7 linked regions of the Homo sapiens genome follow. The protein of the gene in region 4 purifies or fractionates together with the protein of the main gene of each other region. This does not show direct contact. Each region holds a gene or a part of one and is shown on either strand. Other genes may lie near its edges.

What was found.
Region 1: the proteins of EPS8L2 (region 4) and CDV3 fractionate together in Homo sapiens (co-fractionation; one large-scale study listed by BioGRID). This does not show direct contact.
Region 2: the proteins of EPS8L2 (region 4) and KLHL13 purify together in Homo sapiens (co-immunoprecipitation; one large-scale study listed by IntAct). This does not show direct contact.
Region 3: the proteins of EPS8L2 (region 4) and RSRP1 purify together in Homo sapiens (co-immunoprecipitation; one large-scale study listed by IntAct). This does not show direct contact.
Region 5: the proteins of EPS8L2 (region 4) and SUCLA2 fractionate together in Homo sapiens (co-fractionation; one large-scale study listed by BioGRID). This does not show direct contact.
Region 6: the proteins of EPS8L2 (region 4) and EVL fractionate together in Homo sapiens (co-fractionation; one large-scale study listed by BioGRID). This does not show direct contact.
Region 7: the proteins of EPS8L2 (region 4) and SLC12A4 purify together in Homo sapiens (co-immunoprecipitation; one large-scale study listed by IntAct). This does not show direct contact.

The regions. Positions count from the first base shown.
Region 1 is NC_000003.12:133,572,392-133,576,485, forward strand, and holds the start of CDV3 (protein CDV3 homolog), read left to right. Parts: upstream 1-1,294; 5' UTR 1,295-1,653; coding exon 1,654-1,893; exon of another isoform or gene 1,894-2,365; intron 2,366-2,647; coding exon 2,648-2,724; intron 2,725-4,094.
Region 2 is NC_000023.11:118,114,011-118,117,969, forward strand, and holds the start of KLHL13 (kelch-like protein 13), read right to left. Parts: upstream 2,801-3,959; 5' UTR 2,498-2,800; intron 1-2,497. UniProt on the Homo sapiens protein: Substrate-specific adapter of a BCR (BTB-CUL3-RBX1) E3 ubiquitin-protein ligase complex required for mitotic progression and cytokinesis.
Region 3 is NC_000001.11:25,244,655-25,248,939, forward strand, and holds the start of RSRP1 (arginine/serine-rich protein 1), read right to left. Parts: upstream 2,801-4,285; 5' UTR 2,655-2,800; intron 2,376-2,654; 5' UTR 2,310-2,375; coding exon 1,790-2,309; intron 648-1,789; coding exon 496-647; exon of another isoform or gene 1-495.
Region 4 is NC_000011.10:719,731-723,230, reverse strand, and holds part of EPS8L2 (epidermal growth factor receptor kinase substrate 8-like protein 2), read right to left. Parts: intron 3,170-3,500; coding exon 3,008-3,169; intron 2,635-3,007; coding exon 2,485-2,634; intron 2,402-2,484; coding exon 2,322-2,401; intron 2,168-2,321; coding exon 2,025-2,167; intron 1,947-2,024; coding exon 1,879-1,946; intron 1,667-1,878; coding exon 1,540-1,666; intron 1,329-1,539; coding exon 1,240-1,328; intron 1,141-1,239; coding exon 1,066-1,140; intron 831-1,065; coding exon 682-830; intron 559-681; coding exon 426-558; intron 1-425. UniProt on the Homo sapiens protein: Stimulates guanine exchange activity of SOS1. May play a role in membrane ruffling and remodeling of the actin cytoskeleton. In the cochlea, is required for stereocilia maintenance in adult hair cells.
Region 5 is NC_000013.11:47,949,274-47,952,773, forward strand, and holds part of SUCLA2 (succinate--CoA ligase [ADP-forming] subunit beta, mitochondrial precursor), read right to left. Parts: intron 331-3,500; coding exon 210-330; intron 1-209. UniProt on the Homo sapiens protein: ATP-specific succinyl-CoA synthetase functions in the citric acid cycle (TCA), coupling the hydrolysis of succinyl-CoA to the synthesis of ATP and thus represents the only step of substrate-level phosphorylation in the TCA.
Region 6 is NC_000014.9:100,071,922-100,075,421, reverse strand, and holds part of EVL (ena/VASP-like protein), read right to left. Parts: intron 1-3,500. UniProt on the Homo sapiens protein: Ena/VASP proteins are actin-associated proteins involved in a range of processes dependent on cytoskeleton remodeling and cell polarity such as axon guidance and lamellipodial and filopodial dynamics in migrating cells.
Region 7 is NC_000016.10:67,948,138-67,951,637, forward strand, and holds part of SLC12A4 (solute carrier family 12 member 4), read right to left. Parts: intron 3,168-3,500; coding exon 3,003-3,167; intron 2,924-3,002; coding exon 2,825-2,923; intron 2,575-2,824; coding exon 2,517-2,574; intron 2,357-2,516; coding exon 2,182-2,356; intron 1,782-2,181; coding exon 1,663-1,781; intron 23-1,662; coding exon 1-22. UniProt on the Homo sapiens protein: Mediates electroneutral potassium-chloride cotransport when activated by cell swelling. May contribute to cell volume homeostasis in single cells. May be involved in the regulation of basolateral Cl(-) exit in NaCl absorbing epithelia.

The sequences.
Region 1 (4,094 bases), on a different chromosome or scaffold from region 4:
TGAGCCACCGCGCCCAGCCAGAAGTTAATTCTTTAATAGCAGTGTAAGTAGGGGGTAGGAAAAGAGAAACTTTAATGGGGTAACTGTAAAGGAAAAGACGAAGAAGTCTCTCCATTTACTGGCTGGATTCTATCTACCCCATATGGCTACCAACATTTGTCTGAGTCATTTCCTCAATGGTTGTGACAGCTCCCTCTTCTGCTTTTAGAAGGAGGAAGTAGAAAGTTTAAGAGCTTACTTTAGACCACCTTTTGCATATAGAATTCATTTCATTTTCAAGGCCCCAAGGGTATTTAAATGGGCTTTAAACCCATTTAAACCTGGCTTTCGCCTGGGCATTTTGGTCTCCACCCCTATGATAAGACAGTCCCCTCCTTTTATCAGGGATAGAAGCTAAGGATAAACTGTATCATCATCTAGACTCAAGTCAGGGCGTTAAGCAATGTGCTGAGCAGCTAATAATGTTGACTCTCTTCCCTCCATCCCCCTATCTTGTAAGAAATAGTATACCCACTTTACAGATTAGGGACTTGACGATAGGATTTATTGAACTTGACCTTGGTAAACATAATCCAGAGGGTGGAGTTCAGACAAAATCCCTTTCTACCTACCAACCAGCCTATGAAAGATCTTTTAGTAAATGGGACCTAAACTTCAGGCTCACTGCTCCTCTCACTTTCACAATCAACCGGTAAAGAAGAAAAGTAATGGTTGCCACTCCAGAGGGGGTGGAAGTACAGAAGCGATCAGAGGAGAGGAACAATCTTTAACACAGTTGGCTTAACGCAGTGCCTGTCCGTTTCGCGACAGTTCAAACGACTACTATGGGGCCACGGTTTGTTCTGGGCCAGGAAACACACGTGCATCCTGCGCATGCGTCCAAAAGGAACCCACTGCCCCTCCTGCTGGACCTCTTTAGCCAAGTCATCAACCAGCCCTCAACATGCCCGCCCTCAAGACTAAACCCTCGGCCAATCGGGAAACCGGAGTCGCCCGGCACGTCACTTATTTTGCATATGCCCTCCTCTCCCCGCCCCCATGCTTGGACTCCGCCCCGTCTGGGTCAGGGATTGTCACCTAAGAGCTTCGTCCTGGCACCTGATTGGCTCTCTTTCCAGCTCCGCCTCCATCTCCTCCCGCCGCCCGCCCCTTGGCGATCCCACAGCGGCAGGCAGAGCAAAATACGCAGGCGCAGGCGCTTCCTCTCTCTTCTAGCGGCCCGCCCTCCCTCCTCCCTCTCCCTCCCCTCCCCACTCCCTTCCCCTCCTCTCCAGGCCTGCGCGCGCGCCTCTTCCTCCGGCACGCGCCGCTGCTAGCCGAGCACTCTCGCCAGAACCTCTGGCTCGCGCGTGCCTTTTCCCCTCAGGTTGTGGGGAGAGCGGAATCCTGCTCCGCCGTCGCAGCAGCAGCGGCAGCCCCGGCAGCCTCGGGCGACAGCGGCGGCGCGCGAGCCCCCGGGCGGACCGTACCACCGCTCGCCAGCACGCAGGGGGAGCCGCCCGTCTCGCCGCGCACGCCTCGGCGACCCCGCGGGGCTGAGGCGTCGCCGCGCCCGGCAGCGTGAGCGCAGAGCCGGCCTCGACCCCGAGCTCGGAGCCCCGCGGGCCGCGCCCGCCGCCGGCCCCACCCATCCGGGTCGAGGAGGCCGAGGCCATGGCTGAGACGGAGGAGCGGAGCCTGGACAACTTCTTTGCCAAGAGGGACAAGAAGAAGAAGAAGGAGCGGAGCAACCGGGCGGCGAGTGCCGCGGGCGCAGCGGGCAGCGCCGGCGGAAGCAGTGGAGCCGCGGGTGCGGCGGGCGGCGGGGCGGGCGCGGGGACCCGGCCGGGTGACGGCGGGACCGCCAGCGCGGGGGCTGCGGGCCCAGGGGCCGCCACCAAGGCTGTGACGAAGGTGAGGGGCCGGGAGGCCGGCACTCGGGGCCCGGGCCGCGCGCCGGCGCCCCATGTGCCCGCCCCCGCCTGCCGGGGAAGCGTCCGGGAGGGGCCGCGGAGGCCGGGCGGACGGGCGCGGGCCGCCACGTGACGCAGGCTCTCCACCTCGGGCTGGGCTCGCCAGGGCCGGGACCCCTTCCGATATCCGCGGTGGAGCCGCCCTTCCCACCCCGCGTCGCTCGGCGTTAGCCAAGGCCCGGGCGGCGCCACCCTCCGGGGGCACTAGGTCTGGGGCCGCAGTGCCCAGCACAGAGCAGCGTTTATCGGGTGACGTCTAGGCTGAGTAATTCCGTGTGCTGACCTCAGCCCAGTAGTTTGAGCTGAATTTTCGCTTTCAGCAGCCGCATTTGTAGCAGCTCTTTTGTGATGACTTAGTCTCTAAGCCCGTGAAAGAAAAAGAAAACTCTCGGTGGCAAGGTTGAAGTAGAAATGTAGTTGTGAAATTCCTATTGACTTCTTCCTTCGGCTTTTCTTAGTTGCTTAAAGTAACAGCTCCCATGCAGGAACCCAGCGGAAGTATAGTGTTAGCCTACGAGCATGTTTGTCCTCCATTTAGCCTAGTTTGCCCCAGAACGAAGCAAGGGCTTTGACCAGAAGACAAGTACATACTTAGTTTAGGTTCCAGCCACTTGATCCACTTTTCGTAGTGTGTTATTTGCTTAGTTATATGTCTACAAATAGCTTTAATTGATCAAATGGCGTTTGTTTTACAGGACGAAGATGAATGGAAAGAATTGGAGCAAAAAGAGGTTGATTACAGCGGCCTCAGGGTTCAGGCAATGCAAATAAGGTATAGTCTGGTTACAAATGTGTTTAGATAACCTTTGGGATAGATATTGGATACAAGTTAGGTTTTCCTTTGGCCCCAAAGCAGCATCATAGTAGCCTTGTGCTCTAGATATGCTTATTAGGACTCAAATGGGTTCTGTCTACTCTTTCTCACTCCATGGAGGCAGCCCTTCCGTGTGCTCATGAAATTAGCTGCTGACTCTAAAATCCTGTGAGAGCTTGCCTACTTCCAGTTCTGGTTAGGACTTTTCATTTGAGACAGCTAAAGTGGATTTTGTCGCTTCAAAATTTTTACTTTTAACATCGGTGATTGTACTTAGTTTTGGTTTCAAAAGTAATGTGGATGTTTTTCACATCCTCTCCAATAAGCAAGTGAATATATGTTTTTGTAATTGAAGTATATCATACTTACAGAGAGATAGAGGTTTTATGTGTTCACACAGTGCAACCAACCTGTGCAATAAGCACCAGGTCAAGAAACTGAGTATTACTGATACAGAACAAGGTTCCCCTCCTAACACATACTCACTGCATTCACCTTCAACATAACCACTATTCTAACACCATAATTTTTTCTAAAACTTCATAGGAATGGAATTATATTTGTAAACATGTTATTTTTTAAAGTTCAAAAAAATAGTAATTTTTAAAAATTGGGTAGTTTAGAAGATTTGAAATTAACATTTTGTCAAGTCCAGTCTATGGCAGTCAACTTTAAGGTTGATGTTAAGTAAGTGCTATATTTTGGAGGGTTCATAAAGTAGGAAAAAACAAATGAAGATATGGTTCTGCTGTAAGATGAAAAAATCCTTTGCTCCCGGTTTAAAGAAATAAAGGATCTTGATAAACTGTCTCCAGTTTGAAGGTTGCATTTTATAGGCAATGCCAGTGAGTGCGAGGCACAGTGGAGGAAATACTTTCCTTAACTGAAAACTGTCTTTTGACTTCTCTGGATGTTAGTATCTATAGCTTTAGATAACTTACTCAAAAAGCAGGGTTAATATTATTGACATTTGTTGAACACCTACCACAGCTAGGCATTAATGTCCTACTGTGAAAACATCATTTTGTGAGCTTAACCAAAGTGAAACCCCCAGATTGATAATGGGAAACTTTCAGGAACGATGGCTTCTCCACTCTTGAGATTTCTTTGTAGTGGTGTTGAGTAGAAGTGATTAGACTTGAGTTTGATTCCCAACCACTTGTTGGCTTCCTTAATGTGTCTTTCTCTTTTCTGTCTCCTGGGGCTTGACCTGTAAATAATGGGGAGGAGGGAATGTGAGGTTCTTACCATTTGGTGTTGTGGAACTGCCTGTGTGTGTGGCTCCGGTTCTGTTGTAAAGTTTGGCTCTTCTTAAGTCTTTTCTTTCC
Region 2 (3,959 bases), on a different chromosome or scaffold from region 4:
TCTAGGGCTATTCATTTCTCTACAGTCTTTCCACATTTTCTGAAATAATTCCTGGAAATTTGTTGTATTATTTCATAGCAATAAAAATACATCGGTTTCAATCAGTGGATTTAAGAAAAAAATATTTTCAAGAGGTTTTAGTGGTTTATCAAACATCAATAAAAATCAAACAATTTGAAAATTGGTCAGTCTCATTTCACTACTGCAAGTCAAATTACATGAAGAAGCATAATTTGAAATGTACATAAAATGAGAAAGAAGATAATCCAATAAGTAAGTGCAGTTACATTTAGTAATATCAGAAATATCCAGTCTGCTAACCTCTAGGTGTACCAGATGGACTATCAAACACATATTGAGTCATATTGAAGATTCAGAGCAAAATGCTTATGGCTAACTCATCCACCTTTATTCTTTTCCTGGCAAATATAAATAGTCTTACTATGCAATCACATTAGCAGCAATCTTAGCTTAGATTTTGTATCAATAATAAGCATGAAAAGAAAAAAGTAAGAAAATAGTATAAACTCTTTTCCTTGAAAAAGTTGTAAGTTTTTATGTATTTTGAGAATAGTTTGCTAAGAAAATTACAGACTTAGAAAGTGGGCCTATTAGAATAAGTACCCTTTCCCTACTACATTCCATTTTTTAATAAACCTCAAGTAAACTCAGGAATTTACCAAATCAATTGGGAAACTACAAATCATCTGCAAGTTATCTAACTAAATTGATAAGCAATAGGCCTTACTTTTCTTGTGAAAACTACTTTCTTCAGAACATCAACTGAGCCTTATATAATCACACTACACTTTTTGAAGTGTGCTTATAAAAATGGCAGATTGAAAACCTTGGGCTTTTTAATAATTGAAGCTCTTATTTATCTGTTTTTTAAATACATCATTTGATGTTGCAGCAGAAACTACTCTCATCTCACTGCCATAAGACGTGCTACCAGGACAGTGAAATTTAGCCATTATCTTCATTCACAACCTGGTTTCTTCTGAGATTGCTGCCAATTAGTGCACACTGTGTCAATGGCAACACTTGGTCATACATCAGGCAAACAACTCTTTTACCGTTAAGTATGAGGATATTAATAAGAACTTGCAGTTAAGGGAGCTAATATTTTTAGATGTAAAATGATGTCATAAATGCTGAATTATTTCATTTTTCTCAGTTTTTAAATTTGAACACTAGATACAGTCTATTTCCAAAAACACAGCTGCGTATGTCAGCATGTGCTTGTTCACTGGTATTTGCCTCCACTTTGTGCTTCTCCATTCAGCTTTCTTCACACACTAATTGCAGTATGAAAGTGAGCAAATGAACCTCAGTATGGGAGCTAACACCACAACTACATGGGGAGAAAGCGATATCGCTAAGAGTGAGTAGTCTTTTTTGTAACTACGTGGTTTTAAAATATGCTGCTTTTAGAGGGTTTATACAAACATGAAATCTACTGTTAAGAAACTGTGGCTTCAAAAAAAAGAAAGCAGGTGCCCTCCAGAGACAGTTTTAAATCCCAGCGTCTCTTAGTCTCCATTCAATGTGCTTAGTTACCAGCCTATGCTAACTTGAGCGACTTTATCCCAAACCACTAAAGTCCTCTGACTACATTAAAACGATTAACATCCTAGTTTACAATTAGAGAAATGGAGCCAGGCATCACAATTCCCACCAATCCTCTCTCTCAGGCCTGCTCAGCAGCCAGGGAAGAATCAGATTTAGGACCATGTACGAAGATTGCGTACCAACATATATACATACATTTTAAGTGGCTATTGTTCTTGGACTAAGTTAATGAAACCTAGAAAGAAACTTTAAAGTTCCCTAGTTGATATTTACTAAGGCTATTTAGTGAAGGAATGATCTCATCACTTTCAGTAAACTGTAGCCTAGACTATAAGCCTCCAAGAAAATCATTAGTCAACTGTAATTAAACAAACAAACAAACAAAAAAGTCAAAATATTCAGAGCTGAAGACATTCAGAGCTAAGTTAAAAGCTTCGAGGAAGAAGAGGAGTGTGCTCCTGACTTGGGAGCCAGCAGAGGAGCCTCCTAAGTTAGAAGATTCTGAAGGAGAGATGGATTAGGAGGCACAAAGCAGAAACTGTTAGAGGGCAAGAGACAGTAGGGCCGGGGCGGGCAGCGGGACCCCAGACCGTCAGGGCAGCAACAGCGAGGCCCAGAGGAGAAGATCTTGGAGAGATGACAAAGAAGCACAGGAAAGCCGGGTTCTGGGGTCCTAGAAGAACCCAGGCGTCCGACGGAGCCAGAGGGACCGGCAGAAAGGGATGCGAAGGTGTAAGGATGAGGGCGCGCACCAGCACGCGGGAGAAAAAGAGGGGGCGGCGGGCAAAATGAAGCTGTTTCCCTGCTCCTCTGCTCCTCTGCCCCTGGTACAGATCGCAACTCCTCGCCGCGCACCGCGCAGCGCCGGGTCCGAAGGCAGGGAAGCGGCTGCTGGAGCCCCTGTGACTTCAGGACCCTGCCTCACCTTGCTCGCCGCGTCCTGGCGTCCCGCCGCTTGTCCGCCGGGTGCTGCGCTCCGAGGGCCAAAGAGGGAGTCGCGCGGCGCAGCCGGGGCTCCCTCCTGCTGCGAGGCACCAGCACCCGCACCTTCGCACCCTCTGCTCGCCCCGACCACTTCACCCTGTCCTGGCGCAGGCGGAGAGCACGGACCCTAACCCGAATGCCGCTGCAGTTATTTTCAAAAGTCCCCGTTCCAGGCTTCCCAGGAATAGGAGCTGAGCTACTGCGGCCGCAGCGGCAGAGCCTCCGCCTGACCTCACCAGGGTGTGGGGGGGCTGCTGAGGGAGGGGGGCGGGAACCCAGTTGGGGAGGGAGGGGGCAGTGGGGGGGGGAGCGCGCGGGCGGGGGAAACATGGCGGCGGGGGTGGCCCCGGCGGCGCCTGCGCGGGAGGCAGGGTGGCGGGGAGCCGGGGCTAGGACGGTGTGTGGGGTCCGAACGGAACTCCCAGGCTGTAGCGAAAGCGTGACAGGGCCGGACCCTGAAGCTGAATGACCGCTAAGTGGCCCTCACGCCTCGGAAACCGGGAGGCTCTGGTGTGAGCCCACATGGATTCTAGTGCCGGGAGGCAGAAAAAGTGAAAAGTGTCAAGTATCCAGGGACAACAGTGCAGCCGCCCCGGGTTAGCCACTCCAAGGAGGTCCACCCGTGCATTCTGCCAGCCGTGGCCTCGGCCTCCTCATAGTCACGGCGGGGCCCGAGCAAAGGGTGTGCCCTGGAAGCGGTGCCACCTCACCTCAGTGGGGCCCACGTCTCAAAATAAGCCTGACCCAGGCTCTCACACAAATATCACTCTTCTAGTGGGATAAGCGCTTCATCCCTCCCCCTCCCTGCTGCAGTACACAACATTAAGAAAGAGGAAGGATAAAAACTACAAATAACAGTTTAACATTTTACTGAGCGTCTGCTATGAACCAAGCACTGAAGCATCAACTTACCTAATTCACAGCTACTCTACAAGTTACACACTATTGTCTCCATTTTACAAGTGACAAAACTGAGGTGTATAGGTTAACCAAGTTGCCAGAGGTTACATAAATAGTAAGTGGCAGAGCGGGACTCAGGATCCCAAGCGGTGTGATTCTGGTACCCAGGCTCTTAACCACTATGCAAACTGCTTCCAAACTCTGGTGGGACTGCTCTTCTAAGTCAGAATCTTGATTCTGCTCTATCAGCCTAGCCCCCAAAAAAAACCCCAGTCAAGCCTGTTTTTCCCCTTGCTTGTCTTCTATTCATTCTTTGCCTTCTTGACGGTTACAGCCTGGGGCCACCTTCTTACACCTATTCCTTTGCCCTTTCTACTTATAATTCCAGACTCCTCCTTGGGAAAATAAAGGGAGTTTGCTCTTAGCAACCAGTTTAATCACTATTGTGATTTTTTTTCTTTGGCTGTTTTTTTCTTCTTCTTCTTCTTAAGGAAGTGATGCGG
Region 3 (4,285 bases), on a different chromosome or scaffold from region 4:
ATAAGAGTACACTGTTAACTGAAAATGAAAAAAATAAATGTATTTTTTGAGACAGGGTCTCGCTCTGCTGCCCAGGCTAGAGTGCAATGGTGCCATCTTGGCTCACTGCAACCTTAGCATCCTAGGCTCAAAGATCCTCCTGCCTCAGCCTCCCAAACAGCTGGGACTACAGGCATGCACCACCATGCCTGGCTAATTTTTGTATTTTTTGTAAACACGCGGTTTTGCCACATTGCCCAGGCTAGTCTTGAACTCCTGGACTCAAGCCATCTGCCTCATTACAGGCATGAGGCACCATGCACGGCCAAATAAAGCTCATTAATCTCCCATTTTCATGGGTTTGACATTGCCTATCTTCAGATTTGCTACTTTGAATTTAGCACATTATATACATCTCTAGACTTCCCAAAAAGTATAGTCTAAGATATAAGTGGCTAATCAGATTTGACAGTTGGCTTTCTGAAAGTTTTGTTCCGACAAACCTAGAATACTTACTTCAGGCTTTGCACCATTACTTGATACACCTATTCCACGGCTTGTTTCTTTGGCTGAAGGAACAGTTCTGAGACTAGCTGGCAAGTCAATGTTGGTTGTTCCTAGAGCTTTCGCTGCATTGGTTTTTGCTATTTCTAACAGCTCCATTCGATCTAAAAAAAAAAGAGAGAGATTTTAAAATACTCATTAATCTGGTAGTTATTTCCCAAGAGAACTCAGAATTACACAATAAATATGTTATTTTGTGGTATTAAATATATTAAGTCACTTGTTTTATAATAGGTAAACTAAGGTTGCCCTTGAACACTAGTAGCTGCGCTGGTCCACTTTATACTTGTTTTTTCTCCCCCTTACTAAATGCAGATAGAAAGTACCACAGTGTTTGAGAGACTGTAAACCCCAAGTGTGCGCGAGGGTTCCATATGCATCCTGGCACCAATCCCCCGAGTGAACAGAGGGACAACTGTGTAACTTTATTCACTGAAAATTCTATTCTCCAGCTCATTTCTTGCTGAAAAGAATAAAATTCTTAAATTATCTCAACAATTAGTTTTGTTTTCTTGACTAAAGGCCTGAGCGTCCTATTATTTTGTCTTTTTGTTGTACTTAATTTTCTCTAGCTAATAGTGATATTATTTTGCTTTCTCTTCAAAGATGTATTTCTGAAAACCAGGTTTTTCTGCTGTAGATTCTTTATATAATTATCACAACCACTGAACCAATACTGATACACTACTAAAGTGTATTTCTACCACCACCCCCGGCTAATTTTTGTACTTTTACTAGATAGTGAGCTATGTTGGCCAGGCTGGTATGGAACGCCTGGCCTCAAGTGACCCACCCGCCTCCGCCTCCGCCTCCCCAAGTGCTGGGATTACAGAGGTGAGCCGCCGCGCCCGGCCTCCTAGGTCACTTAGGATACTCGACAATCCAATTTTATTCAGTAATAATGTCAACTAAAAGAAGGCGTGTTTTGATATTGTTCTTCCCAATCACGTTAACTTAGAACCTTTAACTTAATCATAACATTTAAAAGGCTCCACCCACTAAGAACAGTCAGCCAATAGGAAAAAAAGTTCCCTACATCCTGAGCCATTTAACATCCAGTTGACCTTTAACCCTAAAGAGAATGCTGTCCACTTAAATACAGGTAATGTCCTCCCTCTTTCCTCCAAAAAGATTTCGGGCACTAAAGGAACTAATATTGAAACTACACAGCAACGTTGGTTCCCTAGCCTACTCATATACTGCCACCATACATTACCACAAATGGAAAGGTAAATGACCCACCCACCTTTTTCACTTAAGCGAAAGGGGGTTCTGCTCCGCGACCTCGTCCTGGATCTGTCCCTCCATCTGCTGTGCTCCTCCGGGTACACTGTGCGACCAAAGCCGTAGTAGCGCTGTCCCCGCGCGATCGCGTACGCCCTTCCGCAGTACGACCTTCCCCGAGAGCGCGACCTGCTACGGGACCGGGACCGGTACCGCGAAGGAGACCGGTAGTATCTCCTGGTGAACCCGTAGCGCCTCTCTCGGTAACGGCGGCTGCGGGATCGCGACCGGCTCCGCGAGTATGACCGCGAGTAGCGCCTGTACTTCCGCTGGTGGCGCCTTCGGGAACGGGACCTGGACTTGCTCCTCCGACTCCTGGACGAAAACCGGCTCGAGACGCGGGAATGGGACCGAGAGCTTCTGGAAAAAGAGCGGCTCCTAGACCGCGACGACAGCCGGCTGGACCCGCCCGACCGCGAGGTCGAGGGCGAATCCTTCTCCTGCGGCGAGCCCGGCCACATGTCGTTCACGTAGTTGGACATCTTCACCTGCGGCTTTAGCCTGCGCTTTCTCCGGAAAGGATCCCGCAAGCCTCAACTCAGGACTTCCTAAAAAACCAAGAGAGAAAAAACAAGTCGAGTCGCGGAAGCCGGCGCCTGGCCACCCGGAAGCCACAGTCGGGGAACCTCCGGGAGGCGGAGCCACGGCGCGGGCGGCGACCGCCGCGACAGGAACCGAGCCCTAGAAACCCCGCTCGGCGCCCTGAGGCCGCGGCCTTGAAGCGAAACGCTGCGTTCCCCAAACGCGGGGCCCGGCACGTTTCCCGTCCCTCACTCCTGAGAGACCACTGCGGTGGTCCTGAGAGACCCCGTCAGCAGAAAACTTACCGCACGCCGTCGACGCCTCCCTCACGACTGAGAGAAAGGCTCAACAGACGCCTTCCTTTCGGAACGTAAGACGAAGTGGGGCTTTTAGTCCCTGCTTTCGAACGGCGAATTCCACAACCTCCACCTCCTACGTCCGGATGCGCACTGAGGGACTACGTTAGCAGACGCGTCAAAAGTACCAGAAGCTGGCCCCCGGCGCATGCGCAGAGATGTTCCGTGGTGGGCGCGGCTCTTCTCTTGCCCAACCACCGCCCTGCCTCCTCCCTCCCCAAGCCGCGCCCTGTGCCTCGAGCGCTTGCCTCCAGGGTGCGCATGCGCGATGGGGCTCCAGGGGGAGGTGTTTGATACATCAGGGTGTCCCGTTGCCCTTGGCTTCCCCCCTGATCTGAGATAATTGCGGGACCGACCCAGTCACCAGAAAACTTCGAAGATGGAACGGCCCCGCGTGGGGCTACACCAGGCTCTGGCCTCACTGCACGGGCGGGGCTGGACGTCAGTGCCGGGCGGGGAGTAGGGCCGGGAGAGGAGCGGCTGCAGGCTGGAGAGGGCTCGCAGCCGGGCTCGGAGCTGGGGCCGTCTGACGGGCTGGTGCCCACAGGGTCGTTGCCGCCACCCACCGGCAAGTCGCAGACCCGGCCTGAGCCTCCCTGGACCCTTCCTGGCCTCTTCCTCCTGTCCTAGGTACCGCGGCGCCAGGAGAAGGCGACCGCGTCCACACCCCGCCATGACAGAGAGGGGACCTCACCCTCCCCCGGAACACCCCAAGACCCCTGGAAATGCAGTATTAACGTAGAAAAGATGTTTTACTTCCATGTTTTGGCTAGGAAGGTAATAAGGTCGAGACAAAATAAAAAGACTCAAAACTGACCTTTAATCTGGGGATAATAATGAAGTCTGCGATATCTCTTCCAAAAACTGTGTTTGGTGTGAGTGTAAACAAAGGTGACTATTTTACTTCTAGGGATCTACAAATGGGATGCATTTCAAACACTTCTTGTAATAAAGCATAACAATTGCCTTGAAAATTGTGGGTTAATTGCCTTTTTTTTTTTTTTTTTTTTTGAGACAGGGTCTCACTCGCCCAGGCTGGAGTGTGGTGGGGCCATCACGGCTCACTGCAGCCCAGGCTCCCGAAGAGCTGGAACTACAGGCATGCACCACCATGCTAATTTTTGCACTTTTTTACCCACGGGATCTAACTGTGTTGCCCAGGCTGGTCTCCAACTCCTGGGCTCAAGCGATTCTTCCGCCTCAGCCTCCTGAAGTTTTGGGATTACAGGCGTGAGCCACTTTGCCCAGCCTATACACTTCTTTACAAGTACATTTTGACAAAAGCCACTTTCTTTAGAGGGAGACACAAACTCACTCATCTCTTGTTCATCTTCACCCCACATCTCCGCAGTTCATCCACATCTCCTGAGGATGCATCATGATGGAAGTAGTTCTTAAACAGTTTCTTCTCTAAATCTCAAGACAGTGAAGATACAATGCCCATCCATCAGAAACCTTTGCCGAAAGTTCTCATAAAGCTGTGTGAGTGGACAGAAAAATAACACGAGGCCAGTCGCGGTGGCTCACGCTTGTAATTCCAGCACTTTGGGAGGCCGAAGCGGGAAGATCACCTAAGATCA
Region 4 (3,500 bases):
GGTGGGCGACCTGAGTTAGACATGGGGCGGGGCTGGGTCCCAGGACGAGGGGGCATATGACAGGGGCTGGGCTAATGTCCTGTGACTGATGCATCACTGAGGGTGATGGAGCCTGATGCCCGGTGATGCCAGCATGGGTTGCCTCTCCTGGCAGGGGCTAGGGGCAGCTGAGCTGTGGCTGAAGGGGCGGTGGGTGGAGGTGGGCTGGGGAGGGGAGCTCTGGGGAGGGGTGGGTGTCGGGGCCGGGGAGGGGAGCTCTGGGGAGGGGTGGGTGTCGGGGCTGGGGAGGGGAGCACTGGGGAGGGGTGGGTGTCAGGGCTGGGGGGGGAGCTCTGGGGAGGGGTGGGTGTCAGGGCTGGGGGGGAGCTCTGGTGAGGAGTGGGTGTTGGGGCTGGGGTAGGGATGGGGGCTGCTGGTGCTCTCACCTCCTCGATGGGGGCAGACGCCAGCCCCTCCACCTCCCAGGGGGCCTCCTGCAGCACATCCACAGGAGGCTCCCAGCCGCTGTGGAACTTGGGCACGTAGAGGGGCACCTGTGGCTCCCGCGGCCACTCGGAACTGGGGTGAGAGGTCCTGAAGTCAGCCCTGCCTCTCCAGAACTGGCCCACCAGGACCCCCTTGCTGGCCCCCATGCAGCGCTGGCCCCCCATGAAGCCCCGGCACTGCTCTGCCCTGCCCTACCGGGGCCGCATCCAGCTCTCTCCCAGTGACTCCCACAGCGACATCTCCTTAGGGACCAGGTGGCCGCGCAGGAAGTCCACGGCATCTCGGGAGAGCAGTGGGCAGGAGACGGAGCGTGCGATGTCTGGGCCACTGCAGGTGTTGACGATCTGGGGCACAGTGAGGTTCAGAGGGGACTGAGGCCCACAGACCCTGGCCCAGCACCCCCGTAGCTCCACAGGCTGGCCCTCGGGAAGGGACTTTGGACCCCAGGGAGAGTGGCCACACAGCGTGAACCGGGCTGCCCAAGGCGGGCACCTGCTGCCCCAACCCCGACCCCGGGGAGATGCTGCAGAGGCCTCTGGGCCCCCACCCTGCGCGCCCCTGCCGCCCGGCCCCAGGCACCAGGTCCAGAGGCCCGAAGAGGAAGTGCACGAGCTCCGCGGCGCTGGGGTTCTGGATGTGCTTCTGCAGCTTTGCCTGGGGGTGGGAACAAGTGAGCAGGTGCCGGGGCGGGGCGGGGCCTCCACCCTCCCCTCAGCACAGACAGTGGGGCAGGGCTGGGGCCACCGGACCCACCAGCAAGTTAATCGCCAGCTTGATTTTCTGGAAGCAGTCGATGAACTCGCCCTCAGAGGGGGGCCGTGCCCGCAGTGTGAGGACGCCCTCTGGCATGGGAGGCACCGCGTGAGCCAGGCTGGCCCTGATCTCCCCGGCCCCTGCGCCTTCTGTCCCACGCAGCCCATCTGTGTGGGCTGGACCTTCCTCCACCTCCATGAGTAGCCCCCATGGATGTCCCTGGCCCCGTCCCCGTCCCTGTCCCCTGCACCTGCTGGCCCCGTCCCCTGCACCTGCCGGCCCCGTCCCTGTCCCCTGCACCTGCTGGCGCCTTCTTGCCCTTCTTCTTCCCCTTTTTCCGCTGGTTCAGCTGCTTGAAAGCCTCGGCTGCCTTCTGCAGCCGGGCCACAAACCACTCGATGTCGTCCAGGGCGCAGTTGAGGATTTGCTGGGGTCAGAGGGGGTCAGGGGTCAGCCCCTGACACTCCCCACCGCCCCGCCTTGCTGCAGGGACAGCCCCACAGATGATGGGAGGAGCTGGGCCCCACACCTTCGGAGGGGCAGCCACAGGCTGGGGACTGGCCGGAGGGACAGCAAGGACCAGTGTCCACTGCTGGGGGCGGGGAAGAGAGGGGCCACCTGCCGGGCCCGGGCACCCACCGTCTCCTTCTCTATCTTCTGAGCCAGCACGGCCCGCGGCTCCTCCTGCGACTCCCGACGGCGGAAACCTGATGGGGGACACGGCGGCTGCTCACCGAGCCCCCCACAACGAGCCCTGTGGAGCCCCCTCCAGCCCCTCGGCCCACCTGGCTCGCTGAGTGGCACCTGCGGGCCCACGCGATTCTTGGCCTCCGGGGAATCCCCGCCGCGGTGCTGGAAGGGGATGGGCGCCGGGCCCTGGGGAGGAGGCAGGATGGACTGCCGCTGCCGAATCTTCTCCTGGTGTCCCCTGGAGGGCGAGGGGGTCCTGCTCAGCCCCGCCGGGAACGCACCTGACCCTCCCTCCCTGCCGGGCTCCTCCCCTCCCCTGCCGGCTCCTCCCCTCCCCTGCCGGGCTCCTCCCCTCCCCGCCCCCTGCGACCCCGCTCCGCCCGCTGCCCTACTTCAGGGTCTGCGGCCGCATCTTCTTGCCCAGCCGGCAGTCGGCCAACGCGCTCTCGATGTCCTCGTGCACCAGCTCTGCCTGGGAAAGCGGGCGTCAGGCGGCCAGGAGGGCGGGGCGCGGCGCGGCGGGGCCCCACCCTGCCCCGCCCGGCACCGCCTCACCTCCACCTCATCGCAGTGGAAGAAGTGGACATCCGGCTTGCTCTGCTCCGAGTCCTGGCACACGAGCAGCAGCACAGACGGGTAGCGCAGCTGGTTGAGGACCGTCTGGCTGCGCTGCACCGTGGGCAGCGGGAAGTCTTCCAGCTCCTCCTGCGGGTACATCGCGCGGACACGACTCGCACCCGGGGTCTGGGCACTCTGGCAGGGAGTGGCCGGAGCTGTGGACAAGCCTGGAGCACAGGCCCCTCTGGCGCCGCTGGGGAATGGGCTCCCAAAGATGAGGACTAGGCCCGGGACACACCCCGCAGCTGTACCGCAAGGCTGACCCCGGCTTCCAAACTTCCCTGGACTCTCAGCTCTATGCGGCCCTCTGCCCACCCTTGTCCCATCCTCTTCCAGGGACCAGAATGATAGGGCATGGCCGGCCCTGCAGAGAGGACCGGCCGCACATCCGGGCTGCAGCCGGTGGCTGCCACCGCCTCTACCCACTGTGCTCCCTGTCCCCCGTGGCGCTGGGCCCCACCTGTGACTCGATGTCCAGCAGCCGCAGCGACTGGTCGTTCACCTGCAGCAGCATCTCCTGGGTCCAGATCTTCTCCTTGGAGCTCAGCTGCACCAGCTTCCGGATGGCGTCGTCCACAGACGTGATGGCTTCGCTCTTGTCCATGATGAATGTGGCCAGGTGCTGGGGGTGGGCAGGTGGTCACTGCTGGGCAGAGCCCTCCTTGTGTCGAAAGCCCAGCCCCCAGGGGCCACAGCCTGAGGGGCTGAGGGGCCACAGCCAACCCTGGGTAGGGGGCTAGAACGGGGACCGGCCCCGCCTTTGGTGGGGGGAGTCTCTATTCTGCCTTGGCAGGCATCTGTAGGGGCCATGCTTGTGTCCTGAAACTATCCTCAAAGGAATTCCAACTGCTGCCCGGCCCCGCGCCACCATCCTCACCCGCCCACCTCCTGGTGCAGGCTCAGTACCCGCCCACTGCACCAGCTTTGCCAGCCTCCCCAGCTCTCTTCCTTCT
Region 5 (3,500 bases), on a different chromosome or scaffold from region 4:
AATAAAAAGTGTATCAAATTATACCAAGCAAAAGTATAAACATTTTGCCCCAATGTTAAAATGTTTTAAAAACTATAGTTTTAATTTCATATTGTATAATGCTTTCAAAGACACAGCTATTTAAAAACTATGTTTTAACAAACTGAACTCCATGGAAATGTGAACTTTTAAAGAATTAGGAACAACTGCAAGATACCTTTTATACTCACCTTGTAACCGTACCACAACAGGTATTTTAATTTCCAAGTCTTTTACTGCCATGACTATACCCTGTGCAATAACATCACAGCGCATGATTCCTCCAAAAATGTTGACCAGAATAGCCAGTACCTATGAATAAAGTGTTCTGATAGATTAAAATTTAAAAGAAATTTAAGTTCTTTTCCCCAAAAAATACTAGTATATGTGCTTCATGATAAACATTAACTTGATAGAAAGATTTTCAGACCAAACCACAATACCCTCTTCTAGCTCTCTTTATTGAAGTCTATGTAGTCCACTGCCCACCAGAACTTATTTCCATCTCCTTGGGTAATTTCAACACCTAGTTCACATTTCCTTCTCTACTATATCCCATATGAACAAGACCATCTAATTCCATTTACTTTCTCTTGTTAAATTTGGCCATTCACCAACGTGACTACCCCCAGATCATACTGTAAGATAGTCTCATGTGCAAGATCTCCAATTTAGTGTTTGTCACCTATCATTTCCTCATTTATCCCTGTAGGAAAAGGGCGTGTTGTGTGGCAAGAGTAACACCATCCTGAAGCAAAACTGTCATAATGACTAATGTTTGACTCCTGCAGAGCAAGGCCTTCTGCAGCAAGGTCAAGAAATACTGCCTGTAACATAGATAACCCTTATAAAGAAACAATGCCTGTAGCATAAATGACAACTCATAAAGATGTTTACCTAACTTCCTCAATGGTCACAAGTTTGACAAGAGGGTCTGAGATGTGACCAGCTGTGCAAGTGTTACCAAGAAAAAAAGCTCACTACATAAAGGATAATTTCTGGAGGGCTAGTGTGGGGATCCACCATCTCGCAGCCACCCAAGCCATAGCTTCTGTTTCTAAGTCCCTATATAAATTTAGTTTCTTTCTGAGAACTGGATTTGCCAGCCTCTTTCTCTGGCCTCTCAGATCCCCTGGCCTCTGGGGGTACATATGCATAGACCTGCTCACTGCAAAACAATCCCCATCAATGTAATCAACGTTTTACACAAACCAGGCCCTAAGAATCACCCAGCTTCTCCTGTATGGCCCTCTCTTGGGTACATTTCACATCCAAATCTCAGGACCTGTTTGGGTCAGCATTCTTTCAACATCACAATGATAGTTCTGAATCAGTGTTCTCCTATCCTTTCCAAATAATCTCTCTTTTTTAAAAAAAAGAGGTTTAGTTCACTCAGCTATACCAGGGCTTCTCAAACAATGAGATTAAAATGCATTGTAGATACACCAAAATATCATTCCCCTCAATTCTTGGGGCAGCTAGTAATGTTCTGGGGCAGCAGGAGCCTCAGGGCCAGTGGACTCTGACTACAAGCAATCTTCTCCATCTACCTCCAAGGCCCCACTGAAATACCTTCTGTGAATGCCATGACATGAAAAGGGGTGAGACACACTGAGCTATACTATACATTCTTTACCTTACCACTATTATTCCCAGACCTTTAAGAAATGAAGCTCTGGAATTCATAACAGACTAGAACTCATAGCAGCCTTTGGCATCTCTCATCTCTCTCCCTCTCACCTCATTCTGGAGAGTTTCCATATTCACCACCAGGCACCATCTAACACTCCAGCCTTAAAGTTCTTGGATCTTTACTCTACCAAGCCACTTTCACCTGTAGTCAATTTAAACGAATTACTACCATGGATAAATCCTGGACTAGGCCAGAATGAGTGTCTCTAGAATATTAAATGTATAAATCTCATTCTCCGCTCAACCTCCTTCCCCTTTCACTTTAATGCCTTTCTCCTCTAGCTCTATCAAACACAATCTTTTCTTCTTAAAAGCCTCTAGTCCGCCACCCCGCCCCCGCTCCCAAGAAAAAGCCTCTAGTCCCTCAATCCCTCTCTAATCTTCTACTCTATTAGCTCTCAATGGAACTGACTTTCTTCACTATAGAGCCTGGGACATATGGCTAAGCAATTCAGTGTCACTGCCACCTGCATGCTCAATTCTGTCATACCTATTCCTCTGCCATCCTACTTCAAACAATGCATCTTTGGATGATTCCAGCCATAGCTTATTCAGGGAAAAGTAAAAAAGTAAAAACTGAAAACAAAACTGGAAACACTAGCATAACCTGAAGAGCAATAAAATAATAATTCATCAGCAATCCTCAACTTAGCAGTCAGCCTCATACCTTTAACTCTCTTCATAAGCCTTCTATCCCATGCAAGCTCTCTAACTTTTAGCATACAACCTTCCTTTCTTTAGTGGCACCTCAAGAAAGGAGTAACCACCTTTCCAAAGCTGACCTGGCCAGATAATTATCTCCATCTATTTACTACATAGTATTTCCTCCAGGTCTTCACCCCTCTAGCTACATTCACTCTCTTTATTTTCAAATCTCTTCTCTTCCTCCAACTAGAAAGAGCTCATCTTCTTGATCTTCTAAACAAGCAAGAAAACATACACCACAAAACTCTCCTCAGTCCTACTGCCTTTGACTGATAGCACTGCATCCCTTCCATGCCTTTGTAAAAAAAAAAAAAAAAAAAGTCCTGGAAGAGTAATCTCTCCTGGATATCTCTATTCCCTCAATTCCTCATCAAATCAATCCATTACAATCTGGCCTATGCCCCCATCTCTTCTACTATTCTTACGAAGGTTCCCACTCACCTCTTTCAGTTCTTACTCTGTCTGAATAGTCCTACAACATTTGACATTGTTTCCCAATGCCTTACTTCTCAAAACTCTTCACCTTGGTCCTTCGATGTCACCACTCTCTCCCGATCTGTTCTTATCTCTGTCATTTGTTCTCTGTTTTTCATTTGGGTTTTCCTTCTCTATTCAACCCTTCAACAAAAATGGAGGGGCCAGGTTCCATTCTTGGTTCCTCATCTCACTTGCACAGATCACCTCACCAACTCCTAAGACTTCAACTTTTCTCCAATATAGGAAGTACAATATCTTTTCAATGAACTGTCTACTAGATATAGTCACCACAATCCAAACTTGACATTCATTCTGAAATACCTATTCCTCGACTTTGCCTCTGACAGCATGAAAGTCATCACCACCCAATGATTCTCCCCAGCCCAAAGTCCTAATGTTAACTTAACCAACCCTTCTATGAGGCTCCCAGAAAAGAAGAAAAAAAATGAATTTAATGACCCTATCTCAGAAATGCCTCTAATTTATTCTTACTGATATTGCCTTTGTCAGGGATCTCTTCCACAAGAGAATTCATTATGAATTCTCTTGTGTATGTGCTGGGGTAGGGAGTTAAAATCCAAACTCCTTAACTATAGATAATAGGGATC
Region 6 (3,500 bases), on a different chromosome or scaffold from region 4:
CATACAAGCAACAAAAGTGAATCTTAAAAGCTGGGCTGAGAACCATCAGTAAGGAGCCTCCTGGATGGGAGCGGAGCAGCCCACACTGAGGTGCTCACACAGACCTGTCTGGGCACTCCAGTGCAGAGCAGAGCTGGGGTCTACCCACAGAGCCCCAAGACAAGGCCCGGCACACAGGAGGAGACAGGGGCTTTCTCCTTTGCCAAATTCCAGTCTCTCTCTGAAGCACATCACTTGCTAGTTCAGAAGAGCCCCTGCAGCCATGCAGCTTGGCTCTGGTAACATAGGTGACATCTTCACCTGACTTCACACAATGCTCAAACCACCATCACGAGGTCATTATCACATTTATTCCCACTTCTCATTGTGTGGCTCCCCCAAGTCACACAGGGAGTCAAGTCAGAGACACTGCTGGACAGGACCCTGCCTCCTGCCATCTGGAGGCCTCTCCTTCCAGCTCTCGGAGAACTCTCTCACACTATGAACTCCCCTCTGCCCACAGGCAGCCCCACCCTGTCTCCCCTCAGCCTGCCCCAGCCTCGCCATTCTGCTCTTGCCACAGACTTCTTGCCCTCCTTCTTGCCCTCCTCGCCTCCTGTGTGAAACTTCTCCCTTGGCTGCCATGACACCGCATGGCTTGGCTCTTCTCTGGACTGCCCCTTTTCTGACCACTGTCTTTCCCAAGGTGGAGAGGGGCAGACAGAGAGAGAGTACTTTAGAGAAAGTCTGGCTGGCTGGTGCCCACCAGGAAGCAGTGCTGTGCTGGGAAGCAAGGCTGGGTACAGAGAGTTAAGGCCAGCCCTCACCATGGAGTCAGCGCGGGGAAGTGAGAACACTGTGGACAACAGCTCCAGCTCTGCCCCAGGTCTGGCTCTATTGTTTGCCAGCAACAAGACTTCAGGGAGGTAAGTTTACAGCTCTGTAAAACAAGTAGAATCATCTTTTTGCATTTTCTTTTACCTTTGCTGGAGATCAAATAAGGCTGATGAAATAAACAGGAGAGCAGTTTACTAAACATGATTAGCACCCAGCAGATACTATCTTGAAAAAGGACAATGTTGGCTGGAATGAACAGCAAATCCATATGAGGCAAGACTTAGGGTGGAATCTACATGAAACTGCCTTCCGTGTCCACATGGAGAGCTGTCATTATCACCTACTACTCTTTTAACTTCTAACGAGAAAAACAAGGTGGCAGGTTCCTCACTGTGGCCTGGAGAATTGCCTCAGGCCTCACCAAGTGGGAGCAGGCTGTCGGGTCCTGTCTGTGGAATGGCCCAGATCAACTGTGGAGGTCACTGAGGGCCCGCTCCTGAGCCCTGGCTGTTGGGAAATCAGTTTCCGGGCCCTGATTTGCTCCTGTGCTTTCCTCTAGCCTCTACTCACACTGCTCCCCGACCCCCCGCCCCCACCGCCCCCGGGGGTGACTCCCTGAACCCACTGAAGAGAATGCTAATGCACACCCTCGGGCCCCTGCCGCTCCCCTCAGCTGCTTAGCTTTTCTGCAGAACACTTACCATACTTGCCACTGAACTGAGGGGCAAGTGCCTCCATGAGGCAGGTTGTTTGGTTTGGTTTTTAAAGTAGTGTTCATCTCGGTAGCTCTAGTAACTGGGCCCTAGTGGTTTCTCAACAAATATCTTTGAATAACTGCTGGCTTTTATGTTTGCTGAGTTTTGCCAGGTATTGTATTTCTCAGCCTCCACGGATTTTTGTGGTGGGGGTGGCATGACTTACTTGAGATCTGGCCACCTCTGCTTTCTCTTTCTTTCTTCCTGCATTTATTTGAAAAATAAAACAAGGGCCGGGCACAGTGGCTCACACCTGTAATCCCAGCACTTTGGGAGGCCAAGGTGGGAGGACAGCTTGAGCCCAGGAGTTCGAGACCAGCCTGGGCAACACAGATCCTGTCTCTACACAAAATAAAAAAGTGTTAGCCACGCATGGTGGTGGGTGCCTGTAGCCCCAGCTGCTCAGAAGCCTGAGGTGGAAGGATCCCTTGAGCTGAGGAGGTTAAGGTTGCAGTGAACCGTGTTTGCACCACTGCACTCCATCCTGGGTGACAGAGCAAGACCCTGTCTCCCCAAAAAAAAAAAAAAAAGAAAAAGGAAAAAGTGCTGTACGTGCAAAGTGTCACAAGAGGAGGGCATTTAGTTCTGCCCAGGGGACCCAAGGGATGTTGTCATGAAGGGGAAGCAAGACTTTTCAAGAGGAAACAAAGAACCATTTCAAGCAGAGGGAAGAGTGTCAGCAAAGGCAGAGTGGTGGGTGGGGGGACCTCAGTCATCACCCTGGGGCCTCATCACTTCTCAACACCTACCCAGGTGAATGAGGAAGCACACCCACGTTGCCATGTCCCAATTCAGTGACCGAGAAACAGAGACGCTTGAAATCACAGCCGCATCAGAACTGAAAAACATTCTGCAGTGATTTTCTTAGGAAACACGCCTGGAGAGGGAAGTAACCTGCCCAACGCCCATGGCTGATCCGCGGCAGAGCCTGGACTAGACAGCAACCTGACGCTCCGCCGTGCAGTAAGGCTCTTCTGCTCCACCTGGCGACGCAGCAAAACCCAGCTCCAACTTTTACTTCCTGCTTTGAAGCTGTTTTTCACTCCAACTTTTTAATCTGAAAAATTTCAAACCTACAGGAACATGTAAGGGACACTCTTTTACCTTTCACTAAACCTGCCCATGGTTAACATTTGCCACATGTGAGTTATCTCTGTCTTTCCCCTGAGCCATTTGAAAGTCAGCTGCAGATACCATGATACTTCAGTCCTAGGGACCTGAGCATACATTTCTTTAATATAAGGATATTCTAATATATAACTTAAATACCATTGTTACAACAAAGAAAATCAACACTTTACTAAAAATCTAATACAGAGTCCATACTAAAACTTACCCATGTAATCCCAGCACTTTGGGAGGCCAAAGCAGGTGGATCACCTGAGATCAGGAGTTCGAGATCAGCCTGGCCAACATAGTGAAACCCCATCTCTACTAAAAATACAAAAATTAGCCAGGTGTAGTGGCGCATGCCTGTAGTCCCAGCTACTCGGGAGGCTGAGGCAGGAGAACTGCTTGAACCCAGGAGGCACAGGGAGGTGTAGGATGCACTGAGCGGAGATAGCTCCAATGCACTCCAGCCTGAGCGACAGAGGGAGACTCCGATGCAACAACAACAAAAAAGTTACCCAATTTTTACAAAATGTTTCTGATTTTTTGGGATGTAGGATCTGCTCATGGATTACATTTGATCGAGCCGTCTGCTTACTCCCTTTCAAGCTAAGCTAGGATGTGAAACTATTTAAAAATTTTTCATTGATAAAGATGTTGTGTGTGTGAAGAATTCAGGCCAACTGAATGTAGACTGTAGGTTGGTTAAGAGGTGACTGCCAGATCTCCAATGGAAAGCTATATTTTCCCCTTAGTAATTATTAAATCATTTATAGGGTGCCATTTTTTTTTCTTAATGGGCACAGGTGTGAAACAGGT
Region 7 (3,500 bases), on a different chromosome or scaffold from region 4:
CAGGTAGCACATCAGAAAGAACCTGCGGCACAGAGGGCGGTTGGCGAAGAGCAGCCTCCTCGGCAGCTGGGGACCTGATGTCAGGCTGGGCCTGGCCCAGAAACGGGGCGTGGCCCGGCCCTGCCCTGCATGGCTCAGCAAGGTCTTCTCAACCTCATTGCTGCCACCTCCATGGCCTGAGGCAATGAGACTACTGTGGAGGAGTCCTCGGAGCCAGATCGCAGAGGATGGGCAAGGGTTTGCTGTTGGAGGAGGTAGGAAGGGGAGTAACAGGGCAGAGCTGAAGAGGGTGGTGCAGGGGCAGCAGGAAGAGCTCAGTGCCTGGAGACTCTAGGCCACATTCAGGCCTCTGGCCTGAGTGACCAGCTGGATGAGAGGCTGCCATGCATGAAGGGGAGGATGGAAGATAAGCTGGACCATTTGAATGCAACCAGTCAGAGATACTTAAGAGTCACTGCGGTGGGCGTGGGAGTCCCACGCATGGGCAGGGCCAGCTGCATGAGCCCTCCAGGAAGGCACCCGAGGACGGGTGCGCAGGAAGGCAGGAGGACCCACACAGGGCATGCCAGGGGGCAGGGGCTCCCAGCAGGAGGCCCGAGATAAAGGCTGAGATGTAGCCTCTGATTTGGGCACAAGGGGGGTCACCACCCAAGATGGCTGTGGCAAAACAGTTTCAGGTGTGCTCTTGGGTGAGAGGAAGGGGTGTGGGGGGGTGGACAAGAGGGTGCTGGCTCCAGCAGGCCTGGCTGTAGCTGGGATGGAGCCTGCTCAGGGGTACAGGGCCCCTGTCAAGTCTGCAGGCTGAGTGGGCAGGGAAGAGGAGGCCTTTCATAACCGCACAAGCAAGAAGGAGCGTCAGCCACGGAGCAGGGTGGGCGAGGACCCCAGCCTGGACAGAGTCAACCAAACAAGCGCTGCCTCGGGGTCCCTGGGAGTCACCACATGCTGGCCACTCCCTGCAAGGCACTGGCACGCAGATTTGCCTGGCTGATTCCAGAATGTTAAAAGCAAATGACTTTGAAAATGGATGGGTTGGGCATGGTGGCTCACGCCTGTAATCCCAGCACTTTGGGAGGCCGAGCCAGGTGGATCATCTGACGTCAGGAGTTCGACACCAGCCTGGCCAAGATGGTAAAACGCCATCTCTACTAAAAATACAAAAAATTAGCTGGGCGTGGTGGTGCATTTCTGTAATCCCAGCTACTCAGGAGGCTGAGGCAGGAGAATTGCTTGAACCCAGGAGGCGGAGATTGCAGTGAGCCAAGATCATGCCATTGCACTCCAGCCTGGGTGAGAGAGTGAGACTCTGTCTCAAAAAAAAAAAACAAAAACCAAAAAACAAACTAACAGATGGAAGGGGCAGCAGTGGCTTCATGGAGGCATGAGGGACGCGGTGGTTGCCCTGTCCAGTGGGAAGGTCTGCCGGCCACCTGCTCTGGGGGCCTCAGGGAGGTGTGGACATATTGGTCACCTTATAGCTTTGGCATAGGTGCCAGGCTTGCTCCTAAATGCAGGGGTGGGCTGAGCCCTGTCAGGCCACATCTCCCCATGCAGCCTGCCACATCTCCCAGCTGGACCTCCAACACCAGACGCAGCCACGGGGAGGTGCTGGGGTTCAGGAAGCCTTTCCCCATCCCCCTGCCCTGCCCGGCCCCAGCTCACATGGATAAGATGGGGGCCACCATGTCGAGGGAGGCGATGAGGATGCCCAGCTCGGCGATGAGTGCCGTCAGGAGGAGTGCCCATGTGGGTTCACCATTCACCTTCCCGTGGCCAAACACCTGTGTGCACCAGGAAGGAAGCTGGGTCCTGTCACCCCCATTCCACACCTTGGGCCCCAGACCCCAGCCTGGCCTCCCTCACCCCCAGGGCCCGCCTTGGGGGCTCAGGCCGCCCCTGTGTCTATCCCTATGGGTGTCACCAGTCTCCCTGATTCCACCTCACCAGGCCTCTCTCCTTTGGATGAGCCCTAAACAGGCCATGAAGATTCTGGGTCCAGGCAGCTCCAGGCCCAGGTGAGTGCCAGGCCCAGGGCACTTCTCAGTAGCTCCTCATGGATGGCCGCCTGGCCCCGGGGGCCAATAAGGGCAGGACGTGCTGCATCTGTGTTCCCTATCTCTCTCCCCAGCCGGGCGAGGGCCTGGGAGCAGCCAGGCCATGGGGGAGTGCAGAGGGGCTCACCCGGAGGAAGGGGATGATGTTGTCCTTGGCAATGGCCTGCAATAGGCGTGGTGCCCCTGTGAGGCTCTGGAGGCCAGCGCCACACGTTGAAAAGAAGGAGCCGATGACGATGACCCAGGGTGAAGGCCAGGCCAGTGTGCCCACCACCAAGTTCCTGCTGACACCATCGCCATACCTGCAGGGGCCACCAGAGTGAGGGATGTCAGGGGTCCGGAAGGATGGCACAGACCACCAAAGGCAGCCAGCAGGCTTAGGACCACCCACGGGGTTGGGAGCTGGTGTGAGGGCAGGCCAAAGCCCAGCCGCTGCTAAAGAGGGGGGCCCAGCTCACTCACTTGTCCCGGAGAACCACACCCTCAATGCAGGCACCAAAGAGAACCACACTGCTGAAGTCTGCGGCGGCGTCAAGGAAAACTCGGCCTCTGCCACCCCACTGTCCCTGAATAGTACCACGTGCCCCCACCCCAGCCAGACTACCAGGACACCTACAGCTGGGAGTCTCGTGGTGTGTATGTGCATGTGTGCATGAGAAGGGGAGCTATATATGAGTGTGTGGGGTGTCTGTGCATGTGACCTGGCAACGTACACAGGCCAAGCGCTTCCCGTCCTCTGCCCCACCTGCCCCAGGCCTGGGAAAGGATACACACGAGGGAAGTTGTAATGATGGCCAGAATGGTCCCCACAGGGATAGACTTCTGGGCGTCACGAAGGTCCCCAGAGCGGTTTGAGCCAGCCATGATGCCTCCAAAAACAGATGAGACTCCCTCAGGGGCTCCCCGGGATTGGGGACAGGGCTGGGTGGGTAGGCAGGCAGGGCTCACCTGTTACAGAAGGGAAGAAGATGCCGACCAGCACGGTGAAGGATGTGGCGATGTCAGCGACCACGTACAGAGGCAGGCTCTCCTTCAGGCTCGGGGCATCTGCGGAGGGCAGCCCATGCTTCTCCACGATGTCACCCTTCTCCAGGTAGGCGCTCCACAGGTTTTCTGCAGGGGTAGCTGTGTCACCACCACAGCTGCCCCCCACTACCCCAGGTAGTTTGGGGCAGCCTAGCCAGAGGCGCAGATGCAGGGCAACTTTGGGGACTCAGGGAACAGCTTCAGCCCAATGACTGCAGCGTCAGCCACAGGGCTACCCTGACCACAGAGAAGGAGCTGCCCAGCTAGAAGTCGACAGACAAAGGTGGCTGAACCACCGTCACCCAGAGCCCGCCACTGCCCGCCTTCCACAGAGGCCTTTATGGATCCTGTGGGAACATCCCCAGGCAGTGTCAGGGGCTGGTGGCTGGGGAAGACAGGCTGCTGCAGGCCTTGGACGCT